Homo sapiens: one gene and its partners. The protein of the gene in region 1 interacts with the protein of each later gene in a biochemical or structural test. Each region holds a gene or a part of one and is shown on either strand. Other genes may lie near its edges.

The links. Proteins that work in one complex are often made in the same cells at the same time.
Region 2: the proteins of NOTCH1 (region 1) and NFKB1 form a complex in vitro, tested with the Homo sapiens proteins (2 studies listed by BioGRID).
Region 3: the proteins of NOTCH1 (region 1) and MAML1 form a complex in vitro, tested with the Homo sapiens proteins (2 studies listed by BioGRID).

What each region holds. Positions count from the first base shown.
Region 1 is NC_000009.12:136,508,033-136,515,069, forward strand, and holds part of NOTCH1 (neurogenic locus notch homolog protein 1 preproprotein), read right to left. Parts: intron 6,671-7,037; coding exon 6,478-6,670; intron 5,506-6,477; coding exon 5,360-5,505; intron 5,103-5,359; coding exon 4,989-5,102; intron 4,710-4,988; exon of another isoform or gene 3,240-4,709; coding exon 3,120-3,239; exon of another isoform or gene 2,998-3,119; intron 2,774-2,997; coding exon 2,621-2,773; intron 1,948-2,620; exon of another isoform or gene 1,930-1,947; coding exon 1,701-1,929; exon of another isoform or gene 1,441-1,700; intron 1,040-1,440; coding exon 838-1,039; intron 354-837; coding exon 200-353; intron 108-199; coding exon 1-107. UniProt on the Homo sapiens protein: Functions as a receptor for membrane-bound ligands Jagged-1 (JAG1), Jagged-2 (JAG2) and Delta-1 (DLL1) to regulate cell-fate determination.
Region 2 is NC_000004.12:102,602,322-102,609,358, forward strand, and holds part of NFKB1 (nuclear factor NF-kappa-B p105 subunit), read left to right. Parts: intron 1-193; exon of another isoform or gene 194-665; intron 666-4,174; coding exon 4,175-4,376; intron 4,377-4,828; coding exon 4,829-4,998; intron 4,999-5,327; coding exon 5,328-5,430; intron 5,431-7,037.
Region 3 is NC_000005.10:179,763,785-179,770,821, reverse strand, and holds part of MAML1 (mastermind-like protein 1), read right to left. Parts: intron 5,497-7,037; coding exon 4,081-5,496; intron 1,973-4,080; coding exon 1,733-1,972; intron 1-1,732. UniProt on the Homo sapiens protein: Acts as a transcriptional coactivator for NOTCH proteins. Has been shown to amplify NOTCH-induced transcription of HES1. Enhances phosphorylation and proteolytic turnover of the NOTCH intracellular domain in the nucleus through interaction with CDK8.

The DNA.
Region 1 (7,037 bases):
GTCCTCACAGTAGCTGCCTGTGTAGCCCGCCTGGCAGCGGCAGTGGTGCGTGTTGCCCGCGTCCACACAGAGCCCTCCATGCTGGCACAGGCGGGCAACGTCAACACCTGCGGGGGATGGGGTGGTAGACAGGTGAGGCCCAGGCCCACAGAGGACCTTGATGGGCTGGGACCCGAGCTGGGTGGGCACAGCAGGTTACCTTGTCGCTGCGCAGCCACCTCACAGGACACGCTGGGCACGTCGCAGTAAAGGCCGGTCCAGCCGCTGGGGCACTCGCAGCGGTACTGGGTGTGGGTCTGCCAGCATTTGCCGCCGTTCTTGCAGGGCGAGGAGTCACACCAGTGCACAAGGTTCTGGGGACAGATTGGGGTCAGCTGGGTGCCCGCGCCCCGGCCATTTCCCCGGTAGCTCAGAACGCACATCTGCCAAGGGGCCTACTCCAACCCAGGCTGCAACCCATTCTACAGAAGTGGAAACTGCCGCCCCTGGACTCCCCACCACCCCCACACCAGGAACAGCCTGGGCTGGGTCTCCCTCAGGGCCCTCAGCAGGTCCAGACCACCCTCGGCCTTTGCTAGAAGGAACACTTTTCCTCAATTCCCCAATTCCTGAGCTCCTGCCCCGGCTCCAGAAACCTGGGATTGAAACGAAGGTGCCTGCTGCTTCCGCATCAGGTTCCTTCACCGGCTGCTCAGATCCCCAGAAACCCTCTGCCCGGGGGTGTGGGGGTGACCCCGAGCCGACACAGTGGGACCTGGGGTGACCGTTCCCACCTCCCGCAGGTAGGCACCCACCCAGGGCCCCTCCTTCGGGCACCTCTGTGGCCGGCGCACTCACCTGGCAGTTGGGGCCAGTGTAGCCCTGGGGGCAGGTGCACCTGTAGGAGCCGCAGCCGTCCTGACAGGTGCCGCCATGCAGGCAGGGCTGTGAGTCGCACTCATTGACATCGTGCTGGCAGTAGCTGCCCGTGAAGCCGGGTGGACACAGGCAGGTGAACGAGTTGATGCCGTCCACGCAGGTGCCACCGTTGAAGCAGGAGCTGCAAGGGGGTGGGCAGGCGGGGGCTGAGTGGAGGGCATTGGTGGGTCCCCGCTCCAGCAGATTCTGCCTCGCCAGCACCTCCCCTTCTGCTCAACCCTAGGGGCCTGATGGCCAGGACAGGCCCAGGGCAGCCTGGCTGACCCAGGGAGGCCAGTGGGAACCCGGGGCCCGGCTCTCACACCACGTCACACCTCCCTCCCCTGCTTTCTTTATAAGTCAGGTCGAGAGTGGTTTTACCAAACGCGTGGGCATAGGGTGGTTAAAGTAAATGAGGGAGAAACCAGAAACCGTCCTGGTAACACGGGAGGTAATTACGTCAGAAACCAGGGACGAGACTGACGTTTACCAAATGAGCTTCCTGGCAAACACGGCAAAAAGGAAACAAGAACGGACAGAGTTCTCGTTGTCTAATAGAAGGAAGCGCACCAGTTCTTCAGGACAGACTACCGGCGCTCCTGGTGCGGGACACAGGAGGAGGTCACAATGGCCCTCTCAGGAGGGACAGGTCGGTACAATGAACAATGTCTGGACTCAATGCAGCCAGCGCTAAGTGCCCAGCCGGCCTAGGCGGACGCCTGCATGGTGTGCCAGGCTGCCAGCTACTGCGTGTGGCCCGCACCGCCCGTTCCCTTCCACGGCCTCACTCGAGCCCCGCACACCTCTCTGTGCAGTCAGGCGTGTTGTTCTCACAGTGGATCCCGCTGAAGCCTGCGGGGCAGGTGCACGTGTAGCTGTCCACGCAGTCCGTGCAGTTGGCCCCGTTGCGGCAGGGGTCACTGGCACACTCGTTGATGTCCTCCTCACAGAAAGTGCCCCGGAAGCCGGGCAGGCAGTCGCAGAAGGCCGTGTTGATGCCGTCTGTGCAGGAGCCCCCGTTGTGACACGGGTCTGGGAGAGGACGGAAGGGTGAGTGTGAGGGGCAGGCACAAACCCACACCTGCGGGAGGGGGCCGGGAAGGCTGCATGGCTGGGGACAGCCCAGCCTTTCGTTGCCGAGGCTGCGGCAAGCAGCCCTGTGACAAAGGTGTCTGGTGGGGAGCCCCAGCACCCACAGGCTGCGTCACACCCGTCTCCTGTGCTTGGGGTCTCTCTCCCCACCTGCTCCTGTCCTCAAGCTCCAGGGCAGGGGGCAGCTTTGCAGGCTTCACAGACCGAGCAGGGGAGGAGAGACAGTTCTTGCCTCTGCCTGCCAGGTGATGCCAGCAAGACCCCCGGCTTCTGCCAACCTCAACCTCTGTGAAGCAGGGCTGGGAGGCCTGAGAGCCCTGGCCTGCAGCGGGGCCCGATGAGCCAGGCGGGAGTGCAGGCCGGGCCCGAGCCATCCTCGGCTCAGTGAAGAGCCGTGGGAGGGGCTCTCGTGACTCTTCCGCGAAGTGCAGGGAGGAGCAAGCCGGCTCTGGGGCCCTCCTGAACCACCCTGGCCATCCCTCAGCACATCCCCCACACCTGACCCAACCCTCCCCGGCCACACTCCGGCCTCCCTGGGTGCTTATGGCCAGCACCATGCGCACCAACCCTGCCCGGGGGAACTGAGGCCTGAGAGCTTCCTGGAGGAGGCCAGAGCCGCGGGGCTACTCACTGGGCCGGCAGTCGTCGATGTCGGTCTCGCAGTTGCGCCCACTGTAGCCGGCCTGGCAGTGGCAGCGGTAGCCGCCGTGGGTGTTCTGGCAGGATGCGCCGTGCCGGCACGGGCTCAGAACGCACTCGTTGATGTCGACCTCACAGGTCTGCCCTGCGGGGCAGGAGGAGGCCGGTTGGTCACCAGCGGCCCCTGGCCCTCCAGGCCCTTCCCAGGCTGGCCCACCCACCTACAGTGCCTCTCCCGACCCAGGAGTAGGCTTCCGTGACCCCAGGACCATCCCCTCTCCCCTAATTTTGGCCTAAGAAGGTCACAGGAACTGGAGTTGGGAACGGTGCTCCCAGGTCAATTCCTGATTCCAGAACTTCTCCGACCAGGGCCTCCTCAGCACCCACCAGCTCCTCTTCAAAGACTCATCTAGCCTGCCTGGGAGCTGCCTGTGTCCCGCAGACATCCTGACCTCCCATCCCAGCCCTCACCGGGCCCTGGCCAGCCTCACCTTGCCAGCCCGTGGGGCAGACACAGGAGAAGCTCTCATAGTCCTCGGATTGCCTGCACTCCCCGCCGTTTCTGCAGGGGCTGGGGGCACACGGGGCCAGCACCACCTCACACGTGGCACCTGCGGGAAGGAGACACACGTGACCCCGGGAGCCTCACCCAGAGGGATCTCCCAAATCGGCCACCGCCTGCTGGTCTTTCCGCCATCAGAGTGCCGTCTGCTGGTCCCGCCGGGAGGCAAATGTGCACCGAGACCCCTGAGCGCTCCCGGCTGTGCCAGGACCCTGACCCAGGGAGGAGTGGAGCACAGATGGGGGGACGCTGAAGACAAGCTGCACAAATGTCACGCTCAGAAGCCACCCCTCATTCCCGGTTGGCAGCGGGGCACAGCCTAGGCCTCACCCCACCAGGCGTGCCCAGGAACAAGGACTGCACCAGGAGAGGCGGCCTCAGTCGGGTGGGCTCCACGACACTGCAGGGACCTGGGCCCACCCCGGACGCAAGCCCCCTCATCTCTGGGTGACGAGGAAAGGCCCTGGCCTGAGACCGAGGCCTGAAACTAATCCTGGGGCTCCGTGTCACAGGCAGCAAACGCCCATCACGGGAGGCCAACAAACAAGGGCTGCGATGGAGGGGACAGGCCCAGGCCCCCAGCACATCCTGCGTGTCGGGGCACGGGGCACGGCCTGGAGACCTCCAGGGCCACGCAGGGTGTCTGGCAAAGGCTATGTGGGAACCACGTGCACAGCCGAGGGCCTTTTTCTGCACAAGCCCATGGCCGAGCTTCCTGTTTATAGCCGTGGGGACTGCGTTATCTTCCCTGTCCCCCATTATCTCCCTGGCCTGCTGGGGCGACTTTCCAGGGCCTCTCTTCCTATTGGTTTCCACGGTGACCCGGGCAGGCAGGAACTGCGCCAGAGTTTCCGACAATTGTGCGAAAGGAAGCAGGAAGCGGGCAGATAGGAAGCGGGTCAGCACCGCCGCTCCTCCTGCCGGCCCGATCGACGTGTCTGAAAGGGACAGGGGCGCCCAGCCGTGGAGGGAGGGTCCTCACTGACTGACACAGGAGAGAAAACCCAGGTCCTTAACTTCGGTCAAAGAAAACAGCGTTCTGGCCACAGGCTGCTGGATGTCATGGGAACCGCAGGCGTGGGACCTCCAGCCCGGCTGCCTGGCCCAGGCAGGCCCTCCCTGACCAGGCCCCGTGGCAGCACCCTCTGCCCGCTCCTGGGGAGCGCCAGGACCCCGGTGCTTGTGGACTCTTCTTTGTCTTTTCTAGAGGAGATCATTTCCTGTGATCCCCTTGGCTGGGTTCATAGCAGGGGCTGGACAGTTGGGGGAACATCCCCCTCCCCGCTCAGCCCAAACAGAGGGCTCCTTGTTCCGCTCACACAAAGAGAGCCCGCCATCAAAGGAATCCCTCAGGTCCGGCTGGCGGGGGTGGGGAAGCCCGGCCCCCAGAGACCCCAGCAGGGTGGGCGCCGGGAGCACGGAGCCCAGTGACCCAGGCCCGGCCCTGCTAAGGATTCACCTGCATCTTACCTGTGTCTTGCGGCAGGCTTGCCAGGTAAAACACATGCTTGCATGAAAATTTTCTCCCAGGCATCCTGTATCTTTGCTAATCTGCCAACCCCACCCCCGGGAGAAGGCCCACATACTGCAGGGGCCTAAGGCACTCAGTGAGGCGCAGAACCTTCTGGAAGGCCCCGCCCCAAGAAAGCCACCACTTTACCCTCCAGTCACGGCTTCCCAGGCCGCCCCCACCCCTGGCCCCACCCTCTCCAGCACAGGCTCCGCCCTCTCCAGCACAGGTCCCGCCCCTCCCACATAGGCCCCGCCCCCTCCAGCACAGGCCCCACCCACCCCTCACCTGTGTAGGGCAGCAGGCAGTTGCACTTGTACCCGGCAACGTCGTCAATACACGTGCCCTGGTTCAGACATGGGTTGGACGCACACTCGTTGATGTTGGTCTGGCAGTTGGGACCTGGAGGGAAGGGGACAGCACTCGGCATGTCCAGCACTCCCAGGCACCTTGGCAGGGCCCCACAACAGCAGCCCTGGGCCTGCTCCCCACCCCAGGCCCCTCCTCATCTCCAAGAGCCAGAGGCCTGGAGCTAAGGCTTTGCCACGGGAGGGAGACACCATGCATGGTGCTGGCTGGACCTGGGTCCCGATCCTGTGTCTCCAGCTCCCCAGACTCGAGGGCGGCCCTCTGCACTGAGAAACGCGCAGCCCACTCACCGCTGAAGCCCTCCCGGCAGGTGCACACGTAGCCACTGGTCATGTCTTTGCAGGTGCCGCCGTTGACACAAGGGTTGGATTCACACTCATTGTTGTTGATGTCACAGTTGGTCCCACTCCACCCAGGGTCACAGTCGCACTTGTACCTGCAAGGGGGACCACACTGCAGGTCGAGGGAGGCCCGAGCAGCACGGCCGGGGCCTGGGCACTCCCGGGTCTGCAATGCCCTATGGGCTGGCGGAGGTGCCCATCCACTCAGACTCGCAGAGTCCTTTAGTGGGGGCAGGCTGGGCGCTGTGGCTCACACCTGTAATCCCAGCACTTTGGGAGGCGGGGGTGGCTGAGTCACTTGAGGCCAGGAGTTCAAGATCAGCCTGGCCAACATGGCGAAACTCCCCCACCCCATATATACTAAAAATACAAAAATTAGCCAGGTGTGGTGGCACATGCCTGTAATCTCAGCTACTCGGGAGGCTGAGGCAGGGGAATCACTTGAACCTGAGGGGTGGAGGTTGCAGTGAGCTGAGATCATGCCATTGCACTCCAGCCTGGACAACAGAGCAAGGCTCTGTCTCAAAATAAAGAAAAAAGTGGGGGCCGCAGCGCTTCCCATACCCAAGACTGCGGCAGGGGTTTGGTTCATTAGCGAGGGGACCATGCCAAGTGCAGGGCAGTAGGGTGCTGCGAAAAGCCCCCCACCACTTGCCCGCTGTGTGGCCCCGAACAAAGCACGTGCCTTCTCTGCGCCAAATGAGGGCAATGGGGTCCCTGCTGATTTAAATGGTCCCATCCAGGCAGAGTGCTGCCAGGCACATCATGGGCATCAGAAACACTTGCGGCTGTTACCATGGAAACGTGTTCCAGGGTCACTGTGGGCCTGTGTCCTGAGCACACCATGCAGCCCACAAGGACACGCAGCACACAGCTGCTGGGTGTGGACTGTAGTCTGACTGAGGACCCAGAGGCATGTGCGTCCCCGAGGGGAGCTCCCTGCCACCCAGCCCCGTCCGAGGCCCGTTTCTGGCCCATCTCAAGCTCTGTGCAGGTGCCACCCTCCTGGCAGCAGAGCTCCCAGGGTTTAGGACTGATGTGTCCCCATGATCGGCCCCGCCGCATACCCGTTGAGGCTGTCCCGGCAGGCCCCGTGGACGCAGGGGTTGCTGTTGCACTCATTGACCTCAGACAGGCAGGTGGGGTCGTGGTAGCCCTCGGGGCAGCGGCAGGTGAAGCCATTGATGCCGTCCTCGCAGGTGCCCCCGTTGTGGCAGGGGTTGCCCGCACACTCATCGATGTTGATGTTACACATGCTCCCTAAGGGCAGGGCGGGTCAGACTCCGAGGCCCAGCGCCCAGGGGGTCCCACCCACGTCAACCTCGATTTCCCTGTCTGTTGAGCCGGGGCGATCACCCTTCTGGCCACATCCTTCCAGGTGTCAGAAACCATCTTGGATCACAATGTGCCATGTGCCAGCCTCCCCGGGCACCAGTGCCCACTCAAGTCATCCTCCCAGGGGCCCCAGGGGCAGGGGCTACTGCAGCCCTGACTGATGAGAATCTGAGGCCCAGAGAGGCAGAGGGACCTGCTCAAAGGTGCTGGTGAGCCACAGAGGCAGAAGGTACTTAAGCCTGGCCTCAGGGCTGGCTGCTCCCTCTTGGCCTGCTGGGCCACTCTGCCAACA
Region 2 (7,037 bases), on another chromosome or scaffold:
AGATCGAGATCATCCTGGCTAACATGGTGAAACCCCGTCTCTACTAGAAATACAAAAAAAAAAAAAAAATTAGCCAGGCATGGTGGCAGGCGCCTGTAGTCCCAGCTACTCGGGAGGCTGAGGCAGGAGAATGGTGTGAACCTGGAGGCTGAGCTTGCAATGAGGCGAGATCGCGCCACTGCACTCCAGCCTGGGTGACAGAGTGACGCTCTGTCTCAAAAAAAAAAAAAAAAGTGTGCTTTAAAGTGCATTTAAAGCAAAACTACTAAAACGTTTACATGTGGCTCTTAATAGTTTTTACCTGTGACTAGGTAAAAATTAATAGGTTTCCTGATAGGGGAAAATGACCATTTTTCATTCAATATAAGTCACCATTAGGCTTCTTCACTGGCTCTTGTGCTTCTTGTCAAAGGAAAAGTAAAGTTAGTGACTCTTCACTGCCTGTTAATATAAAATAACTAGTATGAAGTGTGATTGTAGATTTACATTTAAAGGATGTCTTCTTGAAACTTTCATACCGTTTTGGGGTCATTGGTATCCGTAAGGTCATTTTGCCTGTAAAGCTTGATTCTCGCAGACTTTTGGCTGATTGTTCCTTGTAGTCATCACAAATCTATGAATAAAACCAGGAATGGGACATTGTAGCTTGTCAGTCCTCTTTTCAAACCCTGCTTAACAGTCATATTCAAGGAATTACTTATTTTATGTTTATAAATAGGATCTGCAAAGGACACAGCACAACAGGATTAGTAGCTGTGATTTTTTTTTGGAGACAGAGTCTCACTCTGTCACCCAGACTGGAATGCAGTGGCGCGATCTCGGCTCACTGCAACCTCCACCTCCCAGGTTCAAGCGATTCTTCTGCCTCAGCCTCCTGAGTAGCTGGGATTACAGGCGTGCACCACCACACCCAGCTAATTTTTGTATTTTTAGTAGAGATGGGGTTTCACCATGTTGGTCTGGCTGGTCTTGAACTCCTGATCTCGTAATCTGCCAGCCTCGGCCTCCCAAAGTGCTGGGATTACAGGCATGAGCCACTGCGTCTGGCCAGTAGCTATGATTTTTTTTTTATATCCTAAACTCTTTACTGTATCATTTGGTTACATATGTTGAGACTCTCCAGTGTGTTAGAGACAAAAACCCTGAAACCGCCACCATTGATACTTCTATCCCTTCTGATTTGGGGACTCTCAGAAGACTATACGTCCATTTTTCCCCTACCTTACCACCAGTCTGATTAATGGGCAGTGATTCTGGCTTCCCTAGTATGCCTTCTAGGTGTCAAACACACACCCAATGGCAACTTTGATTTGAGAATTAGAAACTGCTAAGATTTGAACTCTTGATTATCTGTTGTAAAGGTTCTCTAGTAACTATTCTTAATGGAAAATGATACAGTTCTCTAAATAATTTGGATTATTTGACAGTTAAGCATTCTTCCCAAATACCTTTCACTAATCTAAGTACATTTCTGTGACCATCTGTCATGATCAAATTCCTCTCCCCACCCACCCTCTAGAAACACACTCAAAATAGTCCAAGTGCACCGAGTTAGGATTTTTTATGAAAATATTCTCTTTAAGCCTTTTTCTCCTTTCATTCTCCTTCCCCCAACATAGACAACCACTCTATCGTGTTTGGTATGGATTGTTTTATTTGTGTATGTTCCCATAAAACATTATTGGAGGGTTTTATGTATTTTTATGTTTTTAATTATTATACATATCATGTATATTCATAGTTTTAAAAATGGTACAGAAGAATCTACATTGGAAAGTCAAAGTTGCCCACCCTGACAATGCCCAGGTCTGCTAGCACAAATGTCACTATTGTGTTTATAGGTAGTTTTTCAAGTACTGGATACAAATGTACGTATACTTGAAATACATAGATATTTTCATATACTCTCACATACAATCCACATTATATTAAATGTACTTCTCTTGCCTTGCATTAACCTTTAAAATTTTTTTAATTTAATTTAATTATAGATTCAAAGGAGGTTACAAAAACGTACTAGGAAGTCCTAGTATTTACTGCAAGGAAACCAGAGGTCTCTTCACCCAGTTTCCCCCAATGGTAACATCCTGCATAACCTCAGAACAGTGTCAAAACCTGGAAATAGACGTTGATACAATCCACAGATCTTAATCAGATTTCACCAGTTTTACACACACTTGTGTGTATCTGTATAGTTCTTTGTGCATATATTTTTTAAATGCCTAAGTGGCATTGTGCTACATGTTACTGTATTTCTGCCTTCACTGCTTATCCACACAGTTCTACATATAGCTAGTTTGTTGTTTCAGCTCCTGAAGAGAATCTAGTATGGGTCTTTCACCTATAACATCCTTGTTTCCTAGTAGTAGACATTTAACCAACTTCTAACTTCCTACCTCAGTAGATAATACTGCAGTGACTGTCCTCACTTATGTCCTCTTGTGGATTTGTGTCAGAATTTCACCCAGATACATCTGCAAGAGTTGGGTTGCTGGGACATTTGTATATTTGGCTTTCCAGAATGTCTGTGTAAGTCCCCATGCCCACAGCCATAGCATGAAGGTATAATTGTTTAAGATATAATCCTTGGATTTAAGAACTAGAAGGTTTATATCATGGAAAACCATTGATTGGACTGTGGAAGAAAATATTAAAAAAAAAAAACCTCTCCGACTCATAAGATATTTTTTAATTAAATTCAAGCTACAGATAATTTATAATTCCTGAATGGTATACTATCTTATAATTTCAGATCCTTTTTTCACAATCTCATTCTCTTTCCTTTTCCCATCTCCCCAAGTAGCATTTCAGAAAACACAGATTAGTAAACACAGTTTCCATTGACTTATTTTTGAGAAGAAGGCTCTTGGCAACAATATCTAAAGTTTTGAGGACATCACTTCATTTCAGGCCAGGTTGATAGTCCTAGAAAATGAAAGAAATAAGGGCAAGTAATAATTTGGCAAAAAAAAAGGGTCTTGTATAGTAAATAATCACTGTAGTTGAGATTTAGACTACCCTCCCATCATTCATCCTGCCAGTTATCATGTGCTGTGGTCACCTACACAGCTAGGAGGTTGGTGGCTCACCTGCTGCTGTAGCCAGTAACTGCTCAATGAAAAGGGAATTTTAGGCAAATTGTCACAAGACTGGCTGGATGTCATAGTTAGGCTCCTGTGAAATAAACTGATTTGTATAAAGATACATTGCTGTTCTCTGTCAGTGAACTCAGTTATTTGAAAGATACGTTTGTGATTGTATTTGTCTTACTCATTTTTGAAAACACACAGTTTGCAAAACATCTTATTTGCATTCACCGAAGTAATACCTTGTGGGCAGGATAGTCAAATGGACTATTTAAGTACCTATTAGGTATCAGCAGCTCACCTTTTTTATTCAGCTGAGCCCCCTTGGTGAGATACTTGTATTATCCTGGTTATGTTATTTAGAATCTTATAATACCTTTTATGAAATGGGTGTAGGAAAGCTATATTGACTGGTCTCAGGAGCCAGTCCATGGGACAGTATTTTTTAATTTAGTAAATTTAGTTTCCATGTCAGCATAGAATCATGGCACTTTTGTTAATTGGTTTCTATTGAGTACTTTATTTAAATTTCTTCAGTGAAAACATAGCCTTAATTTGATTTGTTAATATAAAATTATCAGCTGGAGGTAACTCCTACCAGATATTTAAGAAAACTAAATTTACTACTAGGTGTGCTCAAAATCAACAATCAGTGGGTTGTAGTGAGAAACAAGAAGCTATTAAGACTTGTAAATATGAAAATAACCCACCACAGAAAAAATTGTAAGTATATGAAGTGATGGATTTGTAACTTAGCCTGATTTAATCATTTTATGTTGTAAACTTAGATTAAAACATCACATTGTACCTCATAAATATATACAATTACTATTTGTCAATTAAATTTAAGATAAATAAGAATTTTAAAACATGAATTATTGAATGGCTAAGTGTTAGTACAGTATATGTACTTCATTAGCATATAGTATGGAACAGGATAACTTGGGTGCCAAGGTCAGAAGTTAATCTGGGAATGAGAAATATTCCTGCAGTATGGCCCCACCTATTGCAGTAACAGCTACCAAGCTGTGAGTTGTAAGTAAGTATTCACTGCTGACCAGTGAATCTCCTGCCCTTTCACTTTCCAGACGCCCTTGCACTTGGCAGTGATCACTAAGCAGGAAGATGTGGTGGAGGATTTGCTGAGGGCTGGGGCCGACCTGAGCCTTCTGGACCGCTTGGGTAACTCTGTTTTGCACCTAGCTGCCAAAGAAGGACATGATAAAGTTCTCAGTATCTTACTCAAGCACAAAAAGGCAGCACTACTTCTTGACCACCCCAACGGGGACGGTAAGAGACAATCACACATCATTGGTGTAACTTTCTCCACCTTCTAAATATCTACTAGGTATTTGATAAACGTGTGTTATTTGATTTGCACCCAAAAGTGCTTTCCTTAGTCACCTGGAGTTCATCATCTCTTTTGGGCATTTCTGTTGCTCACCAAAGCTAATTTTTTTAAAGATGATTTGGAATAGTTAGTAGGAGGAGAAAGCAGAGGCCTGAGTAAAGATTCATCTTGAAGTACACAAAGCGTCGTTTATTCAGAGAATGTTTATTTATGTTCATGTCTCCTGAGAACATAATAGGAGACTGTGGGTCTTCAAAGCAGAACAATAGACTTATAGTATCTTTACTGTCCCTCCCCATGATTCAGTTTTTGCCATTTCCTTCAGCTTCACAAGGGCCATCTTGTGAGTTAGCCATCCCATCCTGTGACTGTCCCTTTGCTTGGACTCTAGGTCTGAATGCCATTCATCTAGCCATGATGAGCAATAGCCTGCCATGTTTGCTGCTGCTGGTGGCCGCTGGGGCTGACGTCAATGCTCAGGAGCAGAAGTCCGGGCGCACAGCACTGCACCTGGCTGTGGAGCACGACAACATCTCATTGGCAGGCTGCCTGCTCCTGGAGGTGAAGGGCACACTTATTTGCTTTTGCATTAAATTTCTGAGGGAGATTTAAGGAAATCTTTTCAAAGAAGGAAGTCAGTAGCTGCTGTTCTCCCTTACAATCAGCTCTATTTGTTTAACATTTATGGAGGGCTTCAGAGTACCACCTTTAGACATTCCCCCAACCCCCTTGCTTGGCATCTCTAACTGGGGATTTCTTCAATGACAGAGCCAGCCCAAAGTAGCAATTGGGCTAGTAATAGGACCCAAGGAGCCATGCACACTGGGAGGTGGGGACAAAAGGGCAAAAGAACCTTCCACTAACGCTTTCTTGTGTGGGCTGGATTGTAGGGTGATGCCCATGTGGACAGTACTACCTACGATGGAACCACACCCCTGCATATAGCAGCTGGGAGAGGGTCCACCAGGCTGGCAGCTCTTCTCAAAGCAGCAGGTAAGATGGTGATCTGGCGGTCATTAATGAAAAATGTTACCAGGAATGCAAACCCAACTTCAATAGAGCAGTCATGTTGCCTTCTTTAAGCCACAGACCTACTGCTGAAAAACAAGGGTAAATAAAAATTATATGGCAAATCACATTTTATCTGCCATAAGGCACTGTTTGGACTAGTAATCTTGGGCTTTACCCTGATAGTCATTTTAGTTTTTACTTTCTGATTCATCTGTTTGTTTGGGGTTTGATTGTTTAGATTGACTCCCATGACAAAGGGTCTTTTCAAAGTAGAGTTTGATTCCTTATAGAATTCTGAGTGGTATTAGTCTCAGATCATATCAGAAGGCCCCAGAAGAAAAAGATTATTGGTATAAGAAATCATTTAAAGACTTCATTTTGAAAGAAATATCTCTTAGAAATTGAAGTGTAGGAAAAAGAAAATGGGCCATGTATTAAGACCCATTATGTGGAAGGCACTAAAAATGGCTAGCACTTATTGACCTTTCTGTGTACCAGGCACTGTGATATGCACTTTATGTGCACAGTCTCATTTAATGCCCAATCACCCCTTGTGACAAATACCATTATTCCCCATCTTAGAGTCAAGGAAACAGACTAGAGAGACTACCAGATCCCACTTCAGGGTTCCAGTAAGTGACAGAGCTATGAATCACACTTCGGCAGTGTGAACTTCAAGACTTTATTCTCTGTACTATGTTTCTCTCTCCTATTTTGCTCATAGGTTTGCAGATGTTATTCCATTTAATTCTCTAGTCCTGTGAAGTATAGAAAATTATCCATGCTGATCTTTGAATCTCCAGTGCCTTGCATATTTAGAACCTCAAAATATGTGTAATGAAATTGGCATCTGAAGCCTGCCCTGACATATCTGATATACTTTAGAGGCTTTTTTTTTTTTTAACTTAAAAGGTAAATGCTTCATAAATTCAAGAAAACAAAGCAAAAGACATAGGAACTTTTTCTTTGGGACACCATATTTTTCTTTTCTCTTTTGTTAAATAGAACTTTTTCTTGAACAAGAAACTCTGATTGCAGTGGGTATTAATAGTTTTAGAAGACACTGATTAATTAAATGCCTTCCAACAAGAAGCTATAACCAGCCAGACGTGATGGCTCACACCTGTAAACTCAGCACTTTGAGAGGCTGAGGTGGGAGGGTCACTTGCACTAGGAGTGTGAGACCAACCAGGTTAACATTGTAAGACCTCATCTCCATTAAAAAATTTAAAAAGTAGCCAGGCATGGTGGCATGCGCCTATAGTCGCAGCTAGTTTGGAGGCCGAGGTAGAAGTATCACTTGAGCCTGTGAGTTCAAGGGTGCAGTGAGCTACAGTTTCACCACTGCACTCCAGCCTGAGCTATAGAATAAGAATAAGACCCTGTCTCAAAAAAAAAAAAGAAAAAGAAAGAAACTATAACCCTTTTAAAAATGCTTTATATTGAATTCTCAGAATCCCATGAAAGGAAAAGCAAGTAACAGTTTCTCTGATATATAAATGAAGAAACTCAGATGAAAAACCAAGTCCTAATCTTAATGTCGTGGAAAAGGTCAGTTAAGTCCGAGTGTGGTGGCTCACACCTGTAAT
Region 3 (7,037 bases), on another chromosome or scaffold:
AAATCAGCACCCTCATACACCGCTGGTGGGAATGTAAAATGAGACAGCCTGTGGGAAACAGTCTGACAGTTCCTCCAAAGGTTAAACATAAAAATTACCATGTGATCCAGCAATTCCACTCCCAGGTATCTACCCAAGAAAAATGAAAACAGATGTCTATATGAAAACTTGTACATGAATGTTCATAGCAGCAATACTCATTAACAGCCCAAACAAGAAACCCAAATGTTCATGAACAGACGAATGAATAAAATGTAACATGTCCATACAATGGAATATTATTATCAAGAGGAATCAATTGCTGTTACCTAGCACATGATTGAAAATGACATAACATAAATATAAAATGTCCAGAACAGACAATTTTTTTTTTTTGAGATGGAGTCTTGCTCTGTCGCCCAGGCTGGAGTGCAGTGGCGCGATCTCTGCTCACTGCAAGCTCCCCTCCCAGGTTCACGCCATTCTCCTGCCTCGGCCTCCCGAGTAGCTGGGACTACAGGCGCCCGTCACCACACTTGGCTAATTTTTTGTATTTTTAGTAGAGACGGGGTTTCACTGTGTTAGCCAGGATGGTCTTGATCTCCTGACCTCGTGATCCGCCCACCTCGGCCTCCCAAAGTGCTGGGATTATAGGAGTGAGCCACTGCGCCCAGCCCAGAGCAGACAATTATAGAGACAGAAAGTAGATCAGGAGCTGGAGAGGCAGGGTGGATGGGAGAATGGCTGCTCATGGGTATGGGATTTGTTTTAGGGTAATGAAAATGTTCTAAAATGGATTGTGGTAATGGTTGCACAACTCTGTGATATACTAAAAATGACTAAATTGTTCACTTACGTGGGTGAAGTGTATGCTGTGTGAGTTACATCACAATAAAGCTGCTTTTCTTAAAGGCAGAACTGAGGCAGGGATTGTCCTCAATGAACCTCACTGTCTGGAGCCAGTTCTTATGTCTTAAAGATGTAATTTAAGGCCAGGCGTGGTGGCTCACGCCTGTAATCTCAGCACTTTGGGAGGCCGAGATGAGTGGATCACTTGAGGTCAGGAGCTCAAGACCAGCCTGGCCAACGTGGTGAAACCCCATCTCTACTAAAAACACAAAAATTAGCCAGGCATGGTGGTTCTTGCCTGTAGTCCCAGCTACTCGGGAGGCTGAGGCAGGAGAATTGCATGAACCCATGAGGTGGAGGCTGCAGTGAGCCAAGATCGCACCACTGCAGTCCAGCCTGGGTGACAGCAAGACTCTGTCTCCAAAAAAAAAAAAGAACTCTCACTTGTAACCCTTAGTGCCTGCACACTACACTTGCTAACCAAGCGAGTGAACTGTGTTTCCCTCAGGGATGACTTCACTTCCCTCTTCACGTTCTGGCTTATAACAGGCTCTGTAGTGGCAGCAAAGCTGACTCCATAGTGGAATGACAGACACGTGAGCTCAGTGGCTTGGAAGCTGCTGACCTGAAACATAGGAAAATGTCCCTTCCACAAACAGTTTTAGCCCCCGAGTCTGCCTTGAGTACTCTCCACTAAGTGACACGAAGCAGCTTCTGACAAGACTACCCCTGTCTGAGAAATGCCACATTCCTGGAAAGATGTTTTTAAAAGGCAAAGCACTCTAACAACAGGCACGCAAGTCTGCGCAAATCCACACGCACAAGCAGAAGGTGTGACTGTAGCAGTGACGCAGGGTGCAGGCAAAGGTGGGAAGCGGTGGTTTCCTTCCACTTTTCTTTTTACCTGTTCCGCGAGAAGGTGCTGTTGCCTCTGAAGGAACTGCTGTTGCTGTAAATGCTTTTGCTGCTGCTCCCTTTGTTTCTGTTGGTCCAAAAGCAACTGATGCTGCTTCATTACAGCGGCCTGTTGCTGGCTGCTGAGATAGGGGGAGCTGTTGTGGGAGCTGGCCACGGACACGGCAGGCGGCTGGGTCCCAACACTGGTAGCCTGGGCTTGCACAGGGACACTGGAAGGGTTCTGCTCCTGTCAACACAGATAGGGGACTGTGAAGTCTCTAAGCTCTGATCAGACCAAATAAGCTCCATCCAGTGAATTCAAGGTTCACTCTCTTGAAGCCAAGTCTCTGCTTCCCTTCTGACCTCGAATAACAACCATCCCACAGGGCTGGAGCACAGACCAAAAGTGATGACATCTGAGCATACAGGCGCCTAGCAACGAACAATTACTCCATAGGTGTTAGTTTTACTCCCAGTGATTCACCAGTGACAAAGGTATGGTTTTACGTTAAGCATATGTAAGCTTTCATATTTGCACACAATAGTTCCAGTAAGCAATCGAGGCTTAGAAATGCTCACTTATCAGGACATCTGAGTGCAGAGCGGGCCAATAGGGGAAGAATACTTTTTGTTTTTTTTCAGACGGAGTTTCGCTCTTGTTGCCCAGGCTGGAGTGCAATGGCACGATCTTGGCTCACCGCAACCTCTGCCTCCCGAATTCAAGCGATTCCCCTGCCTCAGCCTCCTGAGTAGCTGGGATTAGAGGCATGTGCCACCACACCTGGCTAATTTTGTATTTTTAGTAGAGATGGGGGTTTCTCCATGTTGGTCACGCTGGTCTCGAACTCCCGACCTCAGGTGCTCCACCCACCTCGGCCTCTCAAAGTGCTGGGATTACAGGCATGAGCCACTGCACCCGGCCTAGGGGAAGAACACTTTGAAGGGGGCTTTGGTCAATGGAGACCACTCTGTCCCATGTGCATAAACCTTGGATTTCGGGCTATCCCTGAACGACCCGAAACTGTACATCTGCGCAAGCATTTTACTGGAAGAGACTGCTTAGCTTTTGTCAAATACCCATCCTCAAAAAATACTGAGAATCAATGAGAACTTTAACAGATATTCTCTGTCAATATATAGACCACAAGTGAGAGTCATGTCAAAGGCCACCACAATATTATCCCGTCATTACTGACACTTAGAAGAAAAGGGGAACTTAGCAGAAGATAGGCAAAAAGCAATCATTATTTAAACCAGTTCAAATTGTTGAGCTCCTTTCTAGTTATTCATTCTAAGATTCTGGTATAATTTCTTCACTCTAATCACCAGAAGCTTAAGAACTACTGAGAGTGCTTCGTAAGTTGCAAAGTGCTACCCAGATGGCAAGCACCCTCACTGTGTGCAGCTGAGCCTCTCTTCAGGGGGTGCTGAACGGCGTGAGACATCTTACTGGCTGAAGTAAGTGGAATTATCAGCACTGGGAGATGCTTAAATGGCTTACAGTTTTTGGCTATTAGAAATAACCACACAATGAATATCTTGGATATAACTTTTTCTTTTATTTTGGATTATTTCTTTAGATCAACTTGTCGGGTATATAGTGTGTCAATGCATATGAACATTTTACAGCATGTGAAAAATACATAATGTCAAATGACTTCCCAAAAGCAGTGAGCTCATTTACACACTCTCATCAATACAGGAGTGTGTCTATTTCCTCATGATATTACCGGCACTGGGCTTTTTAATTTGCAAAATTTTAGCATGTATTACAAATTCACGTTCACTGCAGGCTTATCTGCACTAGCGGAAAACAGGAAACAACCCGAAGGGCCATTTTCCATTTGATGCTACCGGGCTTTAGAACCATGATGAAGTAAGCACAGAGCTGAGCTGTGCTGGGAAGCAGCACATGCCTACAATGTTATAAGCTTACCAAAAATTAGGGAATTTTGTACATGGAGATCTGAAAGGTAGTAAAAAAAAAAAAAAAAAAAAAAAGCCAAGCCTCTAAGAAGCACGTGAAACGTAATGTTTATCTGCAAAACACAGTCGCAAATTACTTAATTTAAATCCTACGGCACGAAAGAGACAGTGGACTAAATGCAGGTGATTCCTGAAACCTTCGTGCAGTTAATAATCAAGCTATGCCAGGGAACTTTACCCTATTTTTTATTAACAATCAACCCTGGTTTATTTTATAAATTTCCACTCCCAAGAGGAGCAAGGATGACAGCAGCTATTCCCTCCTCCCTCTTCCCACAACTACCTCGGATCCAATTAACATCCAAAGTAGTGAGTAACCTCACTGAAGTGTCTGCAGCAGAGGAACAGAAAGCAAAGGCTCATACTTACCTGGCCAGGTGGAACCAGTGATCGGAAAGGCATATTTCCTGGCTTTGGCTTCATCAGAAACAGGGAGTTCTGCTCGTGACTTATATGGGACAGCTGCTGGGGAAGATAAGCCATCAGGGCTGGCTTGCTCTGGCCAGACCCCGGGCTGCCTTGCCCACAGTCCGCTTTGTAATGAGAAAGGGGTTTTGTATTGCCGTAGTCCAGCACAGACCCCTGGTTATTCGCGGAGTTCTGATTCAAGTTACTCGGTGGCTGGTGACTCAGCAGGTTCACATGGCTGGGCTGGAGGTAGGGGCCTCCGGGCCGAGGGGAACTCTTATTCACACTAGGCATCATGAGCAGTTTGGAGTTAGTGAAGTCTTGCTTGTAGCTGGAAGGGCTGGCAGGCTTCTCCATGGGGTAAGGGACATCTAAGGAACTGTGGGAGGGCCCCGTCTGCTGCCATGTGGACATCTGGCCCGGGGCTGGTGCCGGGGTGGCCTGCTGTGGGTTCTGGAGCATCTGCTCGCGCTTCTGCTTGGCAGCGATCTGCTGGAGCTGGTGGGCAGAGGACAGCTCTGAGGCCCCTCCTGGGCCCTGACTGGGCAATACCACACCTGCAAGGGCTCTTTGTGCGTTCTGGGCCTGGGCTGATGCCGGCATCAGGTTTGGACTGGGATTGTCCGCCCGGGGCTGACCAGAGGTGTGGAATAAGGTTTGGGAGCCCCCTAGGCTGGGGGAATCTGTACTCACAGGGGCAGAGGAAGGCCCCAGAAAGGTCTGCCCTGCAGACCCGGCCCTCACTTGTGGAGAGCCTAACTGTTCTTGCTCAAAGGCTGCTGGAGAGAATTCCGTCTTAATATTAATGTCCTGTGCCAAGGGGGTTTGTGTGGCAGAGCCAGAAGACTCTGGGTCCTTCTTCTCCTCGAAGTCCTCATTAAACAGGTCCTTCATGTCTTCATCGGGCACCGACCTGTTCAGCTCCTCGATGAGCTCCTTCCACTCCTGCTCGTTAAGGTTGAGGTCTGGCATGAGGTTGCTTTGCGATATGGAGCCGACAGTCCCAGTGATCATGCAAGGCAGGTCTTCGACAGGCTCCTGCTTCAGTTCTTTATTCAGGCTCAGAGGAAATGACTCACTGGGGTTACTGCCTCCATTCAAGTGAAGGCTGGAGTCAGCCAGACGCTTTTTGTTGAGAGAGTCTAGCCCCAGAGAGTGCTTCCCACTGGACTGCAGGGCGTCGGCTCCAGAAGGCTTGTCAGACTGACCGAGGGGGGAGGCTGGAGGCAGTCCATTGGAAGAGATGGCAACTCCCAGAGGGGCCTCCCGGCGAGTCTTCTTATGCCCAGGAAAGAGGTCCCCGTAGCCATTCTGTTGATCGCCATTCTGAGGGGAAGTGGCGCTGTCAAGATTCCTCTTAACTGTATCATGAAGATGCTGAAAAACATTGAAAAGAATGACTTAAGATACATATGAATTTGCTCTGCTATGACAGTAACAAGCCAAGGGCTGATGTCCCTGCAATGCTCGCCAGTGGGTTCTGCTTGCATAGTGTACACTCCCATTTCTGGGGACACACCTCCATTTTCCCTGACGGTCCTATACCTGGCCAGTCAGAACTGATGTCTAGCTAAAGTGCTTCTGCAGTCCTCTTTCTGCAGGAGACAGGCATGAGGCTGCCCACAGCCATCTCGTCTGGCGGTATGCCCAAGAATGGAGCCAACAAAAAAATGCCAGAGAGTACACACACACACACACACACACACATATATATATTATATATATATATATGTTTTGAGATGGAGCCTTGCTCTGCCGCCAGGCTGGGTGGAGTGCGGTGGCACAATCTCAGCTAACTGCAACCTCCGTCTCCTGAGTTCAATCAATTCTCATGCCTCAACCTCCCAAGTAGCTGGGATTACAGATGTGCACCACTGTGCCTGGCTAACTTCCGGTATTTTTTGGTAGGGACGGGGTTTCACCATGTTGGCCAGGCTGGTCACAAACTCCTGGCCTCAAGTGATTCACCCGTCTCAGCCTCCCAAAGTGCTGGGATTACAGGCATGAGCCACTGTGCCCAGCCCCTCACTTTTTTTTTTTTTGAGACAGAGTTTCGCTCTTGTTGCCCAGGCTGGAGTGCAATGGCGTGATCTTGGCTCACAGCAACCTCCGCCTCCAGGGTTCAAGCCATTCTCCTGCCTCAGCCTCCAGAGTAGCTGGGATTACAGGCATGTGCCACCATGCCCAGCTAATTTTGTATTTTTAGTAGAGACGGGGTTTCTCCATGTTGGTCAGACTGGTCTTGAACTCCAGACCTCAGGTGATTTGCCCACCTCAGTCTCCCAAAGGGCTGGGATTACAGGTGTGAGCCACTGCGCCCGGCCGGCCCCTCACTACTTCTTATTGGGACTATTTGCTTGAACATAATCTGTCTGGTGTGACACTGTGACTCTGCTTCCCATCTGCTCCTCGATGGATTCATGCCACTGAAGTTATTAAGATTCTGCCTTGTGCCAGAGACAAGTGCTGTGGGGAACATAAAGACAAAGAAGACAGCTCCTCCTCGGGTGGGCTTTCAGGACATGGGACATACACAGACAGGGCTACAGAGTGAGAGCAGCACACAGTAAGTACCCTGGGAGTTCAGGGGCGGCGATTTCAAGATAAGAACATGTCAGAAGGGATGGGAAGGGGACAGAAGACGGACTCCTTCTACTGCTTCCTCACCTGCATGTGCTGCAGTCAGGACTCAACTCCACTGCTCAGAGGGAGTGCCTATGCTCAGCTTCCAAACACATGCTGCTCCTTTCCTGTGTTTACTTTATTACGTTTTTGTCCTTTATCCCCCACCCCCAGTACCATCCCCCCTTCCCATAAACCCTAAGCATCTATAGCATGTTATTAGAAAATGTTCCAAGTAACAGCCCTCATTATTATCTTTAGACAGGATTCAGAGGAGACGGGGAGCCCCCTGTGCT